2 separate regions of the Homo sapiens genome follow, and region 1 is linked to region 2. A link means that fine-mapping ties the variant in region 2 to the plasma level of a protein whose gene starts in the linked region. Region 2 holds a variant in brackets. A gene starts in the other region. All regions are shown on their reverse strands.

Region 1 (8,418 bases), not on the chromosome of region 2:
GGGTCCTTGCCCAGCCAGAAGCCCGGGATCATCCCTGTTCCTCACCAACCCCACCCCACATCCAATCCAACCCCAGCACCTGTAAATTTTGCTTCCCAAAGGGCTCTCAAGCCCATCCTCTTCTCTCTGTCTCCATTCCCACCTACCGGATCCAAGCCCCTCACCTGGGCAAGTATAGCAGCCTCTCAGCTGCTCCTCCACCTTTGACCACAGCCCTCCTCCCGCAGGTACCTACTCCATGGAGTGCCCATGGCTTTCTTTTACAAATGCAGACCTGATTGTGACCCTCCCCTGCGTCAGGCCCTCTGCTGGGGCCCATAGCTGAAAGGAGGCAAACTACACCTGTGATGGGGCTTCTCTGGCCCGCCCAGCCTTTGCCTGTGGTGCTCCAGCCACACTGGCCTTCCCTGAATTCCTTGGGCATCCAGCACTCGCCATGCCCCCTCCTGCCTTTGCATATGTGGTCCCATCACTATCCACCCTGCCTCCTATCCTTTTCCCATCAGCCTACCCAGGGAAGCCTTCCTAGGGCTCCAGGACTAGAGCAGACCCTCTGCCATGTCTGCCCATTCAAAGCTCTGCATTCTTCTTCTTAGTAACCTTAATGGTTGCACCTCCACGTTTATTCATGTGATTTCATTGCTGTCTGTGTCTTTACCAGACACAAACTCCATCAGGCAGACACAGGGTCTGTGCTGCTCACCATTGAATGCCCAGTACCCAGCAAAGTGCCTGGCACGTGACTATTGTTGCATGAATTTATCAGCAAATGAATGTAGCTCCTTAGCAAAATGGGGTGGGGGTGGCTTTTGGGAAGAAGGCAAGGTCATGTTATCCATACAGGATCCTTTCTGTGTCCGAGCCAGACTGTCCAAAGGGGCCCCTGCCAGGACCCCTGCCCAACACCCCGCCCTGAAACTCCAGAATCTCAAGTTTGCCAGGAGGAAGAACTCGTGGCTGGGGCAGAAGCAGAAGACAGAAGACATCGGTGGCCAAAACTTCCCTGGGGTGGGGGTTGTGGGGGGTGGGTATCAAGGAAGGAGATCAAGATCTGGAAGGTACCTCTGCCCAACAGAGGCTTCTCCTCAGCACCCCCCTTCTTTTATTTAAATTCAGGATTCAAAGGAACCCTGGCATTTATCTCCCAAACACAACACGGCAACCAGACATCTGGCTGTGATGCGAGCCCTGCACCACCCGCCCCCCGGCCACGCCCCCTATGGCTGCTGCCCTTTCTCCCCTGGAGCAGCTCACGAAGGCTGCACGCCCGCCTACAGCATGAGGAGACCCGGCAGAGCGCCATACCCCAGGATGGGCACCAGAGAACCGGGGACTGGGGAAGAGGAGATACCGGAAGAGAATAAGAGAGGAAAAGAGGGAGGGGGAAAAAAGTATGTGGGTGGAGAGGTGGGACAACGGGTCAGAGACCGAGGAAAGAAAAGGAAAGGAAAAAAAAAACTAAGAAAAGGAAGAAAAACGCATGAAGAGAAAAATTTGAAGGGAGAGAGGTTGGGGGTGGGGGAGAGAAAAGGTAAATGAATAGAAGAAAGAAAGGAAGAAAGGAATGGAGAAAAGCAAATGGGATAAAATAGGCACGGAATTGAACCAACCCAGAAAGGTGTAAATATTCAATCAATTCATGGGGCCAACTTTCTCTTTTTTTTTTCTTTTCTCTTTCTTTCTTTCTTTCTTTTTTTTTTTTTGAGAGAGAGAGTTTCGCTTTTTTGCCCAGGCTGGAGTGCAATGGTGTGATCTCGGTTCACTGCAACCCCCGCCTCCTGGGTTCAAGTGATTCTCCTGCCTCAGCCTCCCAAGTAGCTGGTACTACAGGCCCATGCCGCCATGCCGGGCTAATTTTTGTATTTTTAGTAGAGATGGAGTTTCACCATGTTGGCTAGGCTGGGGTCTCAAACTCTCGACCTCAGGTGATCCGACTGCCTCAGCCTCCCAAAATGTTGGGATTACAGGTGTGAGCCACCGCGCCCTGCCAAGCCAACTTTTAAGAAGAACTACACTGCCTCCAGACATCAGGAGCAGGGAGGGATATGACAGAAAAGCTGCCAGCTACCCAGCTGGGAGCTCACTCCAGCAGGAAAGATGGGGCTGACCCCTCACTTCTGACTACCAGAGAGCAGCAGTGAGAACTGGGGTCCCCTAACTCAACAACATCCCCCATCCAGTGCATTATTCTCAGCTGGGGCCTGGCTGGGACCTGGTGGGGTGGCTGGAGAGGGCTTGGGAGCTGGGGCCATGACAGACCTCGTGTCACCTGGGGCCATACCCCCAGCCCTTCTCTCTCCAGCTCCCAAGTTCTCCTCCTAGGACTGGGGTGGGGGTGGTGGAGGCAGCGGTCAGAGAATGGGGTGGGATCCGTCCAGGACTAGAAAACAAAGTTCATCTTCAAGAGCCTGGAATGAGGGCTTGTTCTAGGGGAGAATGAGGGGGAGGCTGGGCCTGGCTATGGACATTTGAGGGCTCGGGTCACCTGGAAAGAAAAGGAAAGGGGGAAGGAGAGCAAAAGAGGCAAATGAGATCCAGAAAAGGAGCTCTGGAGACAGAGGGGGATGGAGAAAGCAGCGAAGAAACTTGGAAGACAGAGGAGGGATGCAGGGGCCTGAAAGGAACGCAGGATCCGGGCTGGGAAGAAAGAGAAAGAGCAGGGGACAGATGCCTCTCTAGACTCCTGCCACAGCCAGACTCCTCCTCCCAGTCGCTGCCCTCTGACCTTGCTTCCTGGCCTCCCACACACTCCTTAGCCCACTCCAGTCCGGCTTCCTTGTCCATCTCTCCACCACAGCAGCTCACGCTGCGGGGATCAGTCACCACCATTCTGCTAAGTCCAGGGAACATTTTACTCCTTACCATACTAGTTCTCTCTGCAGCATATAACTCTCCTTCCTTCTAGTACCATCTCTTTCCTCTGCACTCATGACCCCCCAATCCCTCTCACCCAGCCCTCCTTCTCTGGCCACTCTTGCCCTATCTCCTCCTCCTCCACCCAGCCCTTACACCCTGAGGGTCCCCGAGGCTCAGTGCCAGCCCCTCCACACTCCCTCCCTCCATGCTTTCTCTGAGACAACACCATCCACAACCCCAGCTTCAGTTACCATCATCCTGGGACCCACATTTGTCTCTCCTCTGAACTCCTGACCCAAGTGCCCAAGGGTTTCCTCCGTATTTCTAATTGGATGTCTCACAGGCTTCAAACACTCAGCATGGACAAAACCTACTTCATCATCTTCCCCCTAACCCTGGAAAGGAAGGAAGGAGGGAGGAAGGGAGAGAGGGAAATCCTAGGAGGCTGGAGGACTTGGGTTTGGGGCTAAGGCATAGAAGAGCAGAGCTGTACCTGGAAGCTGAGGAACCTAGCAAAGGGCTCCGACTGTGCAATGCTAAAGCGAGGGAAGAAGAAGGGCCTGCACACACCCGGGGTCTATCCCCAGACTCTGCTCCAGGCTCCCTCAACAGGAACTGTGCAGGGCTCCATGATAGAGACTCATGGAGAGCTTCATCCTGGGGTCTTCACTGCACCCCCACTCTTAGACCCCGCCCTTCTGTCTCCTCAGACCCTCTCCTAGGAACCCCCTCTTTATCATCAGTCTAGGGCTAGAGGTGGGAGCAGAGAAGCGTTCTGGAGAATTGGAGTTGGGGGAAGAGCAACAGAACCTCAACTGGGGGCTGCAGCAGCTGGAAAGGGTGACCCCGATGTGCAGGGCAGGGGTGCATGCCCCCCACCAGGTGCACAACACCTGGGCTACCTCTTCCAGGTGTGTTCTCCTCCTTTGTCCCATACCATGGAGTCCAGATGGGGCACCTGAGGAGCTCTGAGGGTGGGGGCCTTTTCCCTCCTTCTTTGGTGTTGGAGGGGGGCACTTGGGGAAATTTGGAGAAGGAGAGAACTCAAGCTCAGCACTTTCCTCTTTCTGTTTTTCTTCTTAAGGAATTTTTTTTCCCTAACTGCTGATGACTTTACCATTTCTTGGGGGTGTGGGGAGGAGATTTTGGCTTTTGCTCCCCCCCACTTTAAGTGCCGGACAAAGTCTTACATTCCACAAGAAGCCAGAGCTTCAGAGTTTCCTAAAGATGAGGTGGCGTCTCCTCCTCTCACAGGCACAAGCTCCCTCCTCCTCCCACCCCCCATCCCCCCAGTCTGCAGCCCTCAATCCTGGCCAGGAAGGCCCAGCCAGGCTGGGAGGAGACCCCAAGCACATTCTTCCTCTCACTGTCATACTGCAGAAATTAAAGACACATCTTCAGCCTGGGCACCCGCCAAGCGTTTTAAGTCGAAGAGTGGCAGGGGAGGCCTTGAGCCTCAGCTCCATGCCACGTGTAAAGGATGCTTGGAAACTGTCTGCCTCGGCCCCTGGGAGGAAGGCCTGGAACTGGACATTGGGGTGGTGGCTGTCACACGCCAGGCACACAAAACTCCAAAGCCAGGGATCCCCAAATATCCTTCAGAACCCCAGGCCCATGATGTAGCAACCCCCAATTCACACCTTGGAGGTTTCAACTCTTCTTTAAGATGGGCGTGGGAAAGCCTGGATGGGAAACATATGGGGAGGGGCGGGGAGCTGCAGGCAGGAGCCCTTCTTACTACGAAAACCCAAGAAGCAAGGAAGTGGACAGGTCACTAACCCTCATACTACCAAGCCCTGCGGCACCCTGCCCTAGACCACCACTCTAAATGTCTGTTCCCTCCAAAAACAGGACCCCTGTCGCCTATTAGGGAGGGGTTCTCTTGGAACTGACCCACAGTAGGGGGCAGGACTTTGGTGGGTTCAAGAACTGCCATCTCAGCACCTCAGCCCCCTAGTCCTGCCCTGCAGTCGCTGGCACTAGGCGGGGGCAGACCCTGGGCCACAAGTTGCTGCCACATGGTCGGGATAATTGATGAAGGTCCATCCCTCCATTGCTGTCTCCAGCCCTGCCTCTCTGGAAACTCTATATTTTCCCTTTAATTATAGCCCCTGCAGTCTCCCTCTGCTGCCCCACCCGCACCGCTCATCCTGGCTGCCCACGGCCAGCCGGCCAGCCGACGTGGCTCCCTCCCCTTCTGTTCCTTTTTTTTCCCCTTTGCCTTCGTTGCACAAAACCAGCTGGGGGAGGGCGTGGAGAGGGGCGGGGGGAGGCAATGGAATCTTGGATGGTTTGGGGGAGGCGGGACTCCCCGCTTCCACGTTTGCAGCTCTGGAGCACCCGGGGTGGGGAGCTGCACAGGAGGGAGAGAAATGAACAGGGCACTGCAAGGAGACCCCCAGGCCTTCTCTCAGCCCTACAGAGTTTCTCAGGACGAGGTAGATTGGGGTTGAGGCAGAGCCTTGTTGGGGGAATGGGACATGGAGGAAGAAAGGACGTGGAGTTCTAGAGCCATCTTCCTTAGATATAGCCTGCTGTCCTTCGGGTCCCCAGACCCTTTCAGAGTGTACAGATGATTCTCTCTGGTTCCTAAGGCATAGAGCAATGACCGGGATTTTCAAGAAAGAGATGAGGCAGTGGGAAGTAGCCCCTAAAACAAAGTCAATCATCCTCTGCAGCCCATCCCACACCCCCAAAGGAAAGTTTCACCCAGACACCCAAAATATCCCATACATCCCCAACACTGAGTCCAGGTACAACTGGAGAAGGGGCTTTATGCAGCTCCCAGAAAGACACCCCTTTAGCTAAGTGCCCTCCCTCCACCCAGGTTCTCTCTGGTTTGACTGTGCTGGGAAGGAGGGTCTCTAAGCAGCCCCTGGCCACAGCCATGGCAAACAAAACTCTTCTCTAAGTCACCAATGATCACAGGCCTCCCACTAAAAATACTTCCCAACTCTGGGGTGGAAGAGTTTGGGGGATGAATTTTTAGGGGATTGCAAGCCCCAATCCCCACCTCTGTGTCCCTAGAATCCCCCACCCCTACCTTGGCTGCTCCATCACCCAACCACCAAAGCTTTCTTCTGCAGAGGCCACCTAGTCATGTTTCTCACCCTGCACCTCAGCCTCCCCACTCCATCTCTCAATCATGCCTAGGGTTTGGAGGAAGGCATTTGATTCTGTTCTGGAGCACAGCAGAAGAATTGACATCCTCAAAATTAAAACTCCCTTGCCTGCACCCCTCCCTCAGATATCTGATTCTTAATGTCTAGAAAGGAATCTGTAAATTGTTCCCCAAATATTCCTAAGCTCCATCCCCTAGCCACACCAGAAGACACCCCCAAACAGGCACATCTTTTTAATTCCCAGCTTCCTCTGTTTTGGAGAGGTCCTCAGCATGCCTCTTTATGCCCCTCCCTTAGCTCTTGCCAGGATATCAGAGGGTGACTGGGGCACAGCCAGGAGGACCCCCTCCCCAACACCCCCAACCCTTCCACCTTTGGAAGTCTCCCCACCCAGCTCCCCAGTTCCCCAGTTCCACTTCTTCTAGATTGGAGGTCCCAGGAAGAGAGCAGAGGGGCACCCCTACCCACTGGTTAGCCCACGCCATTCTGAGGACCCAGCTGCACCCCTACCACAGCACCTCTGGCCCAGGCTGGGCTGGGGGGCTGGGGAGGCAGAGCTGCGAAGAGGGGAGATGTGGGGTGGACTCCCTTCCCTCCTCCTCCCCCTCTCCATTCCAACTCCCAAATTGGGGGCCGGGCCAGGCAGCTCTGATTGGCTGGGGCACGGGCGGCCGGCTCCCCCTCTCCGAGGGGCAGGGTTCCTCCCTGCTCTCCATCAGGACAGTATAAAAGGGGCCCGGGCCAGTCGTCGGAGCAGACGGGAGTTTCTCCTCGGGGTCGGAGCAGGAGGCACGCGGAGTGTGAGGCCACGCATGAGCGGACGCTAACCCCCTCCCCAGCCACAAAGAGTCTACATGTCTAGGGTCTAGACATGTTCAGCTTTGTGGACCTCCGGCTCCTGCTCCTCTTAGCGGCCACCGCCCTCCTGACGCACGGCCAAGAGGAAGGCCAAGTCGAGGGCCAAGACGAAGACAGTAAGTCCCAAACTTTTGGGAGTGCAAGGATACTCTATATCGCGCCTTGCGCTTGGTCCCGGGGGCCGCGGCTTAAAACGAGACGTGGATGATCCGGAGACTCGGGAATGGAAGGGAGATGATGAGGGCTCTTCCTCGGCGCCCTGAGACAGGAGGGAGCTCACCCTGGGGCGAGGTTGGGGTTGAACGCGCCCCGGGAGCGGGAGGTGAGGGTGGAGCGCGGCGTGAGTTGGTGCAAGAGAGAATCCCGAGCGCGCAACCGGGGAAGTGGGGATCTGGGTGCAGAGTGAGGAAAGCACGTCGAAGATGGGATGGGGGCGCCGAGCGGGGCATTTGAAGCCCAAGATGTAGAAGCAATCAGGAAGGCCGTGGGATGATTCATAAGGAAAGATTGCCCTCTCTGCGGGCTAGAGTGTTGCTGGGGCCGTGGGGGTGCTGGGCAGCCGCGGAGGGGGTGCGGAGCGTGGGCGGGTGGAGGATGAGAAACTTTGGCGCGGACTCGGCGGGGCGGGGTCCTTGCGCCCCCTGCTGACCGATGCTGAGCACTGCGTCTCCCGGTCCAACGCTTACTGGGGCAGGAGCCGGAGCGGGAAGACCCGGGTTATTGCTGGGTGCGGACCCCCACCTCTAGATCTGGAAAGTAAAGCCAGGGATGGGGCAGCCCAAGCCTCTTAAAGAGGTAGTCGGGCCGGTGAGGTCGGCCCCGCCCCGGCCCCATTGCTTAGCGTTGCCCGACACCTAGTGGCCGTCTGGGGAGCCGCTAGCGCGGTGGGAGTGGTTAGCTAACTTCTGGACTATTTGCGGACTTTTTGGTTCTTTGGCTAAAAGTGACCTGGAGGCATTGGCTGGCTTTGGGGGACTGGGGATGGCCCCGAGAGCGGGCTTTTAAGATGTCTAGGTGCTGGAGGTTAGGGTGTCTCCTAATTTTGAGGTACATTTCAAGTCTTGGGGGGGCCTCCCTTCCAATCAGCCGCTCCCATTCTCCTAGCCCCGCCCCCGCCACCCCACCTGCCCAGGGAATGGGGGCGGGATGAGGGCTGGACCTCCCTTCTCTCCTCCCTCGCCCTCCTCCTGTCTCTACCACGCAAGCCACTCCCCACGAGCCTGCCCTCCCGATGGGGCCCCTCCTATTCTCCCCCCGCCCTCCCCCTCTCACCCTGTGGTTTTTATTTCACTTGGCTTCAGCGCCAATGGGCTGAGGTTGGAGTTGGAAGCCACCGCGGACTAAAGCTTTGTTTAAATTCCTGAGAACTGGAAAGAGTTACAGCCTCCCTGGCCAGGCGCCTCGGCGCTGTCACCCGCGCTGATGAGGAGCAGGCGAGCTTTTAAGGATTTGAGGAAAGAAGAACGGGGGGAGGGGCGGGAAGTGAAAAATCCAAGTGTGCCTCTTAGACCCGGGGGAAAGGTGGTTAAGCTGGGGGTTGCAGTCACTACTGACAACGCCCCTCTTCCGCCTGTCCCAGTCC
Region 2 (11,050 bases):
GACTTTTGGAAATGGAGTCTCTTGGATTTGTAGCCATCAAAAACAAAAAGGCTTTTCAAACAAAGATGTCATTTTACAGAGGCAGAAAGAGCCAATGCTGCAAAGTGTCTTTAGCCCTGCAAATTCAAGCATGAAATGGATATTCAAGGATAGCTTGCCCACAAATGCAGAAGCTGGGACACAGAAGATGCATAAAATATACAAGATACATCTTGAATGAAATAAAATGTAAGAAGGAATCCAGAGAATGTGCAAGCACCTTCATTTTTAAGAAGAATCACTATAATATCCAGTTTCTACCTCATAAGGCTGTTTCCGTGTTCCAGGCAACAGCTGGTCCCACTTTATTGCTGTGGGTACAAAGAGTTCTAGTAAATCCTGTGTAATAGATGTATTCATATGCTCCATCCTTTTAACAATCTTCTTAATTAGGGTGCTGTCCTTTTAAGCAAAGCATTTATATAGTTATTTTATTGCATTTGAATACAGTGTTAGCTTCAATAGACTTAATATAATTTTATGGGTTTTTAAAAAATTGCTTTACAATGAGGGGAATTTATTTTATCATCATTGTGGAGTTATTCCCATGGACTTTTAAGAGCCTTTGGTACAGAGGTTTATGAATCACTGTAGAGGAGAAAGGATCCTAAAGATGTGGTAGATGGTGGTGGTTCTGCCACTTACCTTACTTCTGAGAACCTCAACTTTCACGTCCATAAAACAGAATCAGAATATTCCTCGCCTGCTTCATGGATAAATTGTGAACATCAAATAAGCTATTATATATGAAAGGGCTTTACAAGGCATTGAGAGTTATGTACATTTCAGGGGCTATTACTACCCCCTTGGAAGGTCCCGTCCTCAGTCCCATGAGGAGATGGTGCTAGTGCATGGGTTTTAGGGTAGGCTTGGACTTTCAGGATGCATGGACAGGGGAGAGCAGAGAGAGCCTGGATTGTTTAAGATGCTGGGGTATACAGAGGAGAGCCTCAGGCATTGTGGGAGTAAGGGCAGAGGGCCAGGAACAACAGAGGACAGATGTGGAGTTAATTAGGTGTTAGCTATGGGTACCTGCTGACATTCTGGTACCTAAGGCTGGGCCTCCTCTTCATTACCAACAACCACCAAGTTACTTTCCAGGCCTCTACCTAGTCAGTGTCACTCAAAACCTCATTCTCTCTTTCATTAGAGTTCAGACAAACGATTCTTCACTTAAGCGACCAAATGCTCTGGAATATCCTCTATGTACCCTAGAGCACTAGGATTCCATTTATTGGGGTCAAATGTCTAATCCCCACTTAAATGTAGATAAAATGGAACGTGGCCAATATCAGGTTTCAGCTACCCATGCACAACACAGACATATCCTCAACAGTATAATTTTCAAATGTGAATGACAAAGATTTATGAAGTAAGCCCTAATGTCTTTCAAATGATACTACATCACCATTATTTTCTTTTCCTTTTTCTTTTTCTCTTTTCTTTATTTTTTTTATTTTTTTATTTTTTTATTTTTTATTTTTTTTTTGAGACAGAGTCTCGCTCTGTCACCCAGGCTGGAGTGTAGTGGTGCAATCTTGACTTACTACAACCTCTGCGTCCTGGGTTCAAGCGATTCTCCTGCCTCAGCATCCCAAGTAGCTGAGACCACAGGTGCCCACCACCACTCCTGGCTAATTTTTTGTATTTTTAGTAGAGATGGGGTTCCAGCATGTTGGCCAGGCGGGTCTCAAACTCCTGGCCTCAGGTGATCTGCCTGCCTCAACCTCCCAAAGTGTTGGGATTACAGGCATAAGCCACCACACCCGGCCTGCATTACTTTTTTTATCGTTGTGCATCACAGAACCAAAGGAGTGTTAGTCACCTTTCAAATCACGTCATGAAATCCATTATGTTGTCCACCATATATTCAATAAGAAAATTCAATTATGTCAAGCCCAGCTGTTTTATCTACTCCTTTTAAAATATATTAATGTTTCAGTTTATTCTCAAGTATATAGGCTGAGAGGCAGTAGTAATAGAGTAAAAAGACCACCGTACTTCAAGTAAGAAAACACAGGTTTTGTAGGGGAGTGAAAAATTTCTCTCTTTCAGTTTCCTTGGCTGGGCTACAAATTAAATGGACATATGACAGATTAACAGAAGGAAAACCATATTTAATTATGTGCATACCCATGGGAGTTCTACAAAATATGTCTCGAAAAAGGGTCAGATGATTGATGCTTATATAGCATCCAGAACCACAGAAAAGAATAGAGGCTTGGGGCTTCTGGGGGGTGGTGGAGACACAAGGAATGAGGTTCCTTGGCTGGGCTACAAATTAAATGGACATATGACAGATTGACAGAAGGAAAACCATAGTTAATTACATACATACACATGGGAGTTCTACAAAATATGAGTTTCAAAGAAGGATCAGATGATTGAAGCTTATATAGTATCCAGAGCTACAGAAAGGAATAGAGGCCTGGGGCTTCTAGTGGGTGGTGGAGACACAAGGAATGGGAAGGTGAGGGGAGGAAATACAAGGTGAACAAAGCTTGTCTTGTTATGCAGATTACGAGACTCTGCACCCCTCAGAAGAACAGGCTATCGTCAGGGCATGGAGTTAATCCGTAGTCTCTTTTCTTGTGATTGAAATTAATCTTACCTGGTTGATAAGATTCCCAGAGAGAGGAAATAACGGTTGCGTTCCTTTTGGAGGATCTGTCTTTAGGCGGATAAGGAGAGCTCAGAGAAGACCTCTGCCTGCACCACTGTTCTCCAAGTGCCCTCCAGTTCGAAGTAATCAGCATACCAAAATGTATTTTGTGGTGGCGTTTCCTGACCTCCTTCAGTTTGAATCTGATTTTAACACGCTGGAGAAATTTGAGCAAGTTACTCTATCCCACTGGGCCTCGGTTTGCCAAACTCTTAAAATGGGGATGATATTGTCTACCTCACAGAGCAAGGATCAAATTTGATAATGTGGATGAAAAAGTTTGGGAACAATTAATGTTAGGGCCTTACTTTATCGATTATGTGTTATGGTCATGGACACATGTCCTAATTTGTTGGTATCTCATTGATACTGTAAACTCTCAACAATATTCTTCTGCAAATACTGATTTACAAACTTCTTAGCTGCAGATCAAGGGGGTTAGAAGCTGACTTTCCCTTCTTGGCATCTCTCTCCTTCTCTCTAGTTTTAATATTCAATTTAATCACGGCCATGCCCTTCTTGACTGACCTCGCAATTAAAGATCAAAGCAGAGTCTCATTGCCAATTTCAAGTCCATCTAACTGCTATCCAGATAAAGAAGCTTTTATTTTTTTTTTCCATCTTTTTTTAGAGGTGGGGTCTCACTCTGTTGCCCTACTGGAGTACAGTGGCTATTCACAGTCTCAATCACAGCACACTACAGCCTCCAACTCCTCAGCTCAAGTGATCCTCCCACCTCAGCCTCTGGAATAGCTGGGATTACAGGTGTTTGCCACTGTGCCAGGCTTAGACACTTTAATATTCTCTAATACAATCCTGAGAATGTACACCACAGGAAGAATAAAAGGAAATGTGGACAGTCTTGGACCTCTGAGTGAATGAAGAGGAGTGTGCAAGGCCTAAGGCAAAATGTCAAGGCCAAATGATGTCCCATGTCATAGTCATATGATTCTGCAGCCTATTTGTTTACATAAGTCCAAAGCTGAATACCAAGATGTTTCTTTTAATCCAGTGCAAGGTGAAGGAAATGCTAACGTGAAAGATAAGTAGAAAACAATGTGAAAACATATTTCCTATCAGATGAAATTGGCTACTGGCTGAGCATCTGTTGAGGCTTGTAGGGGGCCTATATTAGTCTGTTTTCTGTTGCTTATAACAGAATATTTGAAGCTGAGTAATTTATAAGGAAAACGAATTTGTTTCTTACTGTTATGGAGGTTGAGAAGTCTGAGGTTGAGGGGTCATATCTGGTGAGCGCCCTCTTGCTGGGGGGAGATCTCTGAAGAGTCCTGACGTGGCTCAGGGCATAACGTGGCAAGGGGGCTGGGCGTGCTAACATCCTCGCTCAGGCCTCTCTTCTTCTTCTTATAAAGTCGCCAGTTCCCCTCCCATGTTAACCCATGAATCCATTAACCCATTAGTCCATTAATCTATTAATGAATTAATTCATTCACAAGGACAGAACCCTTATGATTCGATCACCTCTTAAAGACTACATTTCTCAACACTGCCACACTGGGGATTGAAATTCAACATGAGTTTTGGAGGAGACAAATATTCTAATCATAGCGGGAACCACTAATTAACACCTTTTTTCCTTGCCTATGTTTTTGTTTTGTTTTGTTTTGTTTTTAGAGACAGAGTCTGTCTGTGTCACCCAGGCTGGATTGCAATGGCAAAATCTCAGCTCACTGCAACCTCTGCCTCCTGGGTTTAAGCGATTCTTATGCCTCAGCCTCCCAAATAGCTGGGACTACAGGTGCACACCACCATGCCCGGCTAATTTTTGTATTTTTAGTGGAGACAGAATTTCACCATGTTGGCCAGGCTGGTCTCGAATTCCTGACCTCAGGTGATCCACCTGCCTCGGCCTCCCAACGTGCCGGGATTACAGGCATGGGCCACTGTGCCCTGCCCTTGCCTATATTTTGAACCAATTGAGAAATAAAACAGGACCCAAACATCACCCTTATTATTGATGATGTTAATATTATGAACATGGCTAATAGGTACAAATAAGTGGCTTCCTAATGCTAATATTTTAGAACATGCCTTATAGGTACAAGCAGGTGGGCTTCCTACTGTAGACACACATCTAGTCATGGCCAGGTCTCCCCAGCAGGCTTCTCCCATGTTTGGGAGCAATGGAGACTTATTCTCTCTGCAGGTGGGCTCACTCCCAGGAGAAACAGAAGAGGAAGAAGCTCAGGAATGCATGCCCAGGTCCTCCTTCAAACCCACCCTGAGGAAGAAAAAAGGTTGGAAAGCAGAGAAAACCCAAGAATATTATGTTAGTAGAAGTCCTTCTGCAGAGATAGAAGCTTCAATTCTGGGAGAGAAGCATTTCTGTACAGCAGAATAGTCTTTCTTTCAGCCTAAAAGTAGATTCCTGTAAGAGCAGTTAACTCTGAAAGTCCACAATATGTAGCAATTGTGTTTCTTACAGATGATAACTTGGATAGAACATCCATATTTTAAGAATATTTGTGTATTGAAAAATATTTGGCTGCCACATCTTTCATCTCCCTTCTTACAATGGTTTCTCCTCTGGGCCATCTACCATGCTAATTATAAGCCCATCTATCAACCCAAGACTGGGAAGACAATAGTTGATGAGCAGTTGGAAATAGAGGGATTGAGAGCAATGGCTGTTTTCCAGATCACAGAGTCAACGCTATGAAACACTTTGCAAGATGGCATGTTGTTTTTTTTCTCCCTCAGCCTGGATTATTTCTTAGTGTTCCTGATTCTGCTGGCAGGAATCCTGTTGAATTCAGGAAAACCATATGAAACCCATCCTGGGTGTTGCCAAAATAAATTGTTAATCATATCAGATGTAGCACCAAAGAGTCTTCCATCATAGTCAATTTTCTGTTTTGCAACTGTTCCCCTTGGCTCCATTCAGGATCTGCCAAGAGAAAAGGAAGCTTCCATTGTGCATGCCACATCTTGTTATCTGCTGGAGGAGAGAGGCCAGTGGGGAAGGCTCACTGGGTCAGGATGAGGGTACCTCTAACGCTAACAAGAGGTGTTTACTACAGCCCAATTTCAATGATCCTTCTGGGCATACTAAGAGCGTGTGATCCTCAACTGTATCCATTAAAGCCTGGGAGCATGACAATCTCACGAAGGTTCAATAGGCACAGAGTGGGGATGGCCTGTAGGATTTGTACCTGAATATTTCTAAATGGCTTCTTTAGATGCAAAAGTTATATAAAATGACTACAATTGCCTCCACTATCTGGTTCAATTAAATGAAACCAACTTACCTGAGCACATAGTTATTTGGACTGTTGTCTAGAGGAGAAGGAAAGAAGCAAATGACAACCAGGGAAGCCGTGATCCAGATTTTTTTTAATGGAATGAAAGCCAATAGGTAAGCAATAACTAAAATCTGTCCTAGAGTAGGTCACATCAACACATTGAGTCTAGTCATAATAGATCCTTGGGAAACACACTGAATTCCTTTGAATTGAATCTGCGCCCCCTCCACATTTACAGTATTCTACAGGTGTTGACATGAACATGCTGGAGGGCTAAGCAGTTCTTGAATGTTAATCGTGGCATAGGTCCTTTATATGTACCAGGGCTAGAAAATGAACTGATATGGTTCAAACAAGAAGGAGATTTTTT[T/C]CAAACCTCAGATATTCAGATGAACACATTCAGCATCCCTCTCTGGCCTCCATTTAACTGAAGTTCATTTGCTTTGCAAGATAAACACAAAGGTTGTTCTGCTGTCATTCTCAAAGCATGCCAGTTCTAGTGGCTCTCATCAAACCTACTTCTGGATGTAAATCTTAATTTCAGTCTTAATAAAGCAAGTTCTAGTCAACAAGCTTCATTTCCCATGACTCATTTAGAGAATGGTTTTTGCGTGCCGATTTGTTTTGATCTATATATCTCATTTTTCTTCTGAATTCAGAAAGCCATCTTACCTGAGCAAGGATCAAGCATCCAAGTCTAGAGCTAAACTGTAATATTAGAACATTTCTGACACCATAAAGTCAACCTAAGTGTATTAGCATACCAAAGGGTTGAAGATGTGACACTTGAAGATGGTTAGCTGTTATGTGAGGAGACATTTATTTATTAAAACATAAAGGAAAAATGAATCCCAGAAAGCAATGTGGATACCACTTTCCTGTATTTTTAACTTGAAACTTCCAAATATGAAGTTTTAATCCACCAGTTTAGGTTCTAGCAATGATGTTTCTGAATATCTGGTGTGTATGTGTGTGTGTGTGTGTGTGTGTGCGCGCACACCCATGCCTGTGTGTGTGGTGGGGGGGAGTAGGTGTACATTTTCTGTGGAGAATTTGAAAACGATAATAAAGCCAATTAAGAGATGGTTACTTTTTATTATCACCACATCATGAACAGTCTTCAACCATGTCAGAGATAAAATGCCTTTCCTCAAAAAACTTGTATTAGTGTAAGTTCTACACAATTATAGCTGTTACCTTTGGATTTAATAATATATAGATAAGCCTCAAATTAGCAAATTTTATTATTTATCCATTTCTCTTCTGGCTATTATTATTCATTTTATTTCACAATTATTCCTGAAATAATGTCATCAATATACTAAGTACATCACTAGGTTCTAGGTAAAAATACAGAGTGTTTCTACTTTGAAAAAGTACAAAAAGTGATCAAGGGGAAATATGACTTAGTTGCAGATGAAGAAATGAATGAATGAATCCTGCCTTTTTATACAAATGTTTGAGGTAGCTTTTAAGCAATGCCCACATAAAATAGCAAAATGCAAACAAAATATCAGATCTACAGGAAATATGTCCGAATAAGGAGGTGGCCTAGGATAGAGGAGAGAAACACACATGTGCATGTTGTAAAGTCTTCTATGGTGGCTGACATGAAGCCTCTATTTTGGCTCTGGGATTCCTAGCAGCCAAAGAAAATATGCAAGCAGAAACATACACACTACAACAGGGTGTGATTGATGTAATACAAAGTGACAGCACTGGCTGGAAGTATGCAGCAAGCAAGTATGTTCCTTGAGGTACTATGATCAGTAAGCTGTGATCACATCAATGGTTAATTACAGGTCAATTAATGAATAGTTACAATGCAATGGGGTAAGTGTTGCCAGTAGCTCATATGGAATGGTCTGCTGTCCATGGGAGTTTGCTAACCTGATAATGGAATGAGAAAAGATGGAGAAAGGCATGCAAACAAAACATATAGACTATGCAGAGGCTCAAATAATTAAAACAGCATGTGAATTTGAAAAGTATAAGAACTTCAGTGTGACTGAAGATGGAGTATACAATTTAGGGTGCAGCAGCTTTTGAAGAACTGCAGGGGTAGACAAACTATGGCCCTCAAGTCAAATCTGGCTCGCTAGTTGTTTTCGTAAATAAAGCTTTATTGAAACACAGCTGTGTCCATTCTTTTACATATTGTTTATGGCGGCTTCCTCATTCTTTTTGGTGGTGGTGGTGGTGTTTTTTTTTTGTTTTTTTGATAGAGAGTCTCACTCTGTCGCCCAGCCTAGAGTGCAGTGGTGCAATCTCTGCTCACTGCAACCTCCGCCTCCCGGGTTCAAGCAATTCTCTTGCCTCAGCTTCCCAAGTAGCTGGGACTACAGGTACATGCCACCACACCCAGCTAATTTTTTGTATTTTTAGTGGAGACAGGGTTTCACCACGTTAGCCAGGCTGGTCTTGAACTCCTGACCTCAGGTGATCCACCCGCCTTGGCCTCCCAAAGTGCTGGGATTACAGGCATGAGCCACCATGCCCGGCCTGCTTCCTCATTCTTTACTACAAAGGTGAGCAGTGGACAGAAACCCTATGGCCAGCCTAAAATATATACTCTGTGATCCTTTACAGAAAAAGTTTACCAACCTCTGGTATAAAACATACCAAGGAGTTTGAATTTTATCCTGTAGATGAAAGGGAAAGAGTGAAGGATTTTTAAAAGTTAGGGAAGTTAGGAAAACCAGAAGGGTGGCCCTGGCAAGTTTACTTCACCAATATTCATCTTAATTCCTTAAAGGTAAAAATGATTTGATGTGTCACCTAACCCATGCACCTTAAGGAAGACAATGTCATGGCTGAGTACATAACAACAGTCTCAAAAAAGGTTAACTGGACACCAAGACTTGAGTTGTGATCAAATGATCTACCAGGCTCATTTGAGATATGCTCTAGGCCACTGGGTAAGGATGTGAGGAGTGAAGAGAGTGTCTGGGATATTTTTATCTGCATAAAAGAATCATTTTGTATAGCTTTTTGTATGTTCAAAAAAAAAAAAAAGAAAAAGAATGGTAATAAAAAAAATTCCTTTCCTATATCCTGTTTCCTTCTAAAAGTAGTATTGTTTTACATTTTACATTTGAATGCATAAATCTATGACTCATTGTGAATTCTTTTTTGTATAAATTATAAAGTTTAGGTCAAGATTCTTTTTGGAGGGCTGTGTGTGTGTAATGGTGGCAGCACCACAACGTTGAAAAATGAAAAATGTTGCTTTTAAAAAAATTAAGACATGACATACTTCTGCTGATTTATTTTCTTGTGGATAGTTTTCTATGCATATGCGTCTGCTCTGCCGCTTTATGAATTGAGATTTTTTCCCCAGATCTTAACTTGCCCATATTATATTTCAGCAAACAGAAAGAATAGTTTTTTGTTGTTTTTTAAAGAATCATTTTGCGTGGCATTCCCATGTTTACGAGGCATATAGATAACGTAGTGGTTAGGAGCACGAGCTCTGGAGTCAGTTTCTTGGTCAAATCCTGTCTTTGACCATTTACCAGCCATGTGCCTTTGGAGACAAGGTTCAGTGTCCTCGTCTGTCAAATAGTAATAATAATAGGACCTGAGCTGGGCACGGTGGCTCATGCCTGTAATCCTAGCACTTTGGGAGGCCAAGGCGGGCGGATTGCCTGAGCTCAGGAGATCGAGAAAGCCTGGGCAACACAGTGAAACCCCGTCTCTACTAAAATACAAAAAATTAGCCAGGCATGGGGTGTGCGCCTGTAGTCCCAGCTACTTGGGAGGCCAAGGCAGGAGAATTGCTTGAACCCAGGAGGCGGAGGTTGCAGTGAGCAGAGATCACACTACTGTACTCCAGCCTGGGCGACAGAACGAGACTCCATCTCCAATAATAATAATAATAATAATAATAACACCTACCCTATCATAAGGTTGTTGTGAAGGCTGATGAGTTATACAGTTCTGTTCACACAGGAAGCACTCAATAAAGCTTCATCGTTCCCATTACTAGAAGCATTTAGGTGGAATTTAACCCTGACTTTAGGATATGACATTACATCATATCACATTACTTTACATTGCATCTCACGACATTTTAATGTAAAACGAGAGATTCTCCTCTGTTCTACTCTCTTGGCAGCTACAGAAATAAGAAACTGGTTATAAAATTCCCTGAGAACAGAGGGGACAGGAATTGATATTTGAAAACAAATGATTAATCTTTTTTGATCCAAGACCCAGCTCCCAGGGTTTTTTTTTTTTAGCTATTGGATTAGTTTCCCAGAGTTGCCATGACAAATTACCACAAACTGTGTGCCTTAAAACAATATAAATTTATTCTCCTGTAGTTCAGGAGGCTAGAATCTGAAGTCGAGGTGTTGGCCAGGCCCTACTCCCTCCAAAGCTGCTCGTTTCAGCTTCTAGTGGCTTCCAGACATCCTTGGTGTTCCTTGGCTTTTAGCTGCATCACTCCAACCCCTGCCTCCATCCTCACATTCCCTTATTCCTTTCTTTGTGTCTTATAGGAACACCAGTAATTGGATTTAGAGCCCACCCTGATGCAGGAAGACTTCGTCTTCTTTGATCCTGTCACTCATGTAGTGAGCATAGTATCTGATAGTTTTCCAACACTCGCACCCTCCCTCTAGTCATCCCCAATGTGTATTGTTTTCATCTTTGTGTCCATGTGTATTCAGTGTTTAGCTCCCATATGTATGTAAGAACATGTGGTATTTGGTTTTCTGCTCCCGTGTTAATTCACTTATGATGTTAGTGTCCAGCTGGGGTATCCGTGTTGCTACAAAGGACATGATTTTGTTCTTTTTCATGGTTGCATAGTATTCCATGGTATATACATACTATTTTCTTTATCCAGTCCATCACTGATGGGCATCTAGGTTGAGTCCACGTCTTTGGTAGTGTGAATGGTGCTGGGGTGAACATGCAAGTGCATATGACGTTTTGGTAGAATGATTTGTTTTCCTTTGGGTGTATACTTAGTAATGGGATTGCTGGGTGGAATGGGAGTTCTGTTTTTAGTTCTTTGAGAAATCTCCCAAATGCTTTCCACAGTGGATGAACTAATTTACATTCCCACCAACAGTGTATA

Direction of the effects. Alleles are on the strand shown, and positions count from the first base shown. The strength of an association depends on the size of the effect and on how common the allele is.
In carriers of allele C in region 2, the plasma level of the protein whose gene starts at base 6,732 in region 1 tends to be lower than with T alone (weak association).

What was found. PIP is the posterior inclusion probability: the model's chance that the variant is causal. The UK Biobank Pharma Proteomics Project read protein levels with antibody pairs (Olink). The fine-mapping took linkage between variants from a reference panel, not from the people measured, so its PIPs are less certain.
Region 1: it holds the start of COL1A1, and the variant in region 2 is fine-mapped to the plasma level of the COL1A1 protein (UK Biobank, PIP above 0.99).

Annotation. Positions count from the first base shown.
Region 1 is chr17:50,199,945-50,208,362 of GRCh38, reverse strand. COL1A1 (collagen type I alpha 1 chain) reads left to right here and starts at 6,732. Exons shown (of 51, transcript NM_000088.4): 1 at 6,732-6,952; 2 at 8,416-8,418. The coding sequence starts at 6,850. RefSeq lists an enhancer at 2,138-2,639 and silencers at 7,468-7,517, 8,018-8,067, 8,088-8,137.
Region 2 is chr4:38,354,784-38,365,833 of GRCh38, reverse strand. No RefSeq gene overlaps it. Among named protein-coding and RNA genes, the nearest start is that of LINC02513, 6.6 kb to the left of the region's middle. RefSeq lists a silencer at 8,074-8,298. The variant T/C (reference allele first, on the strand shown) is at 6,335.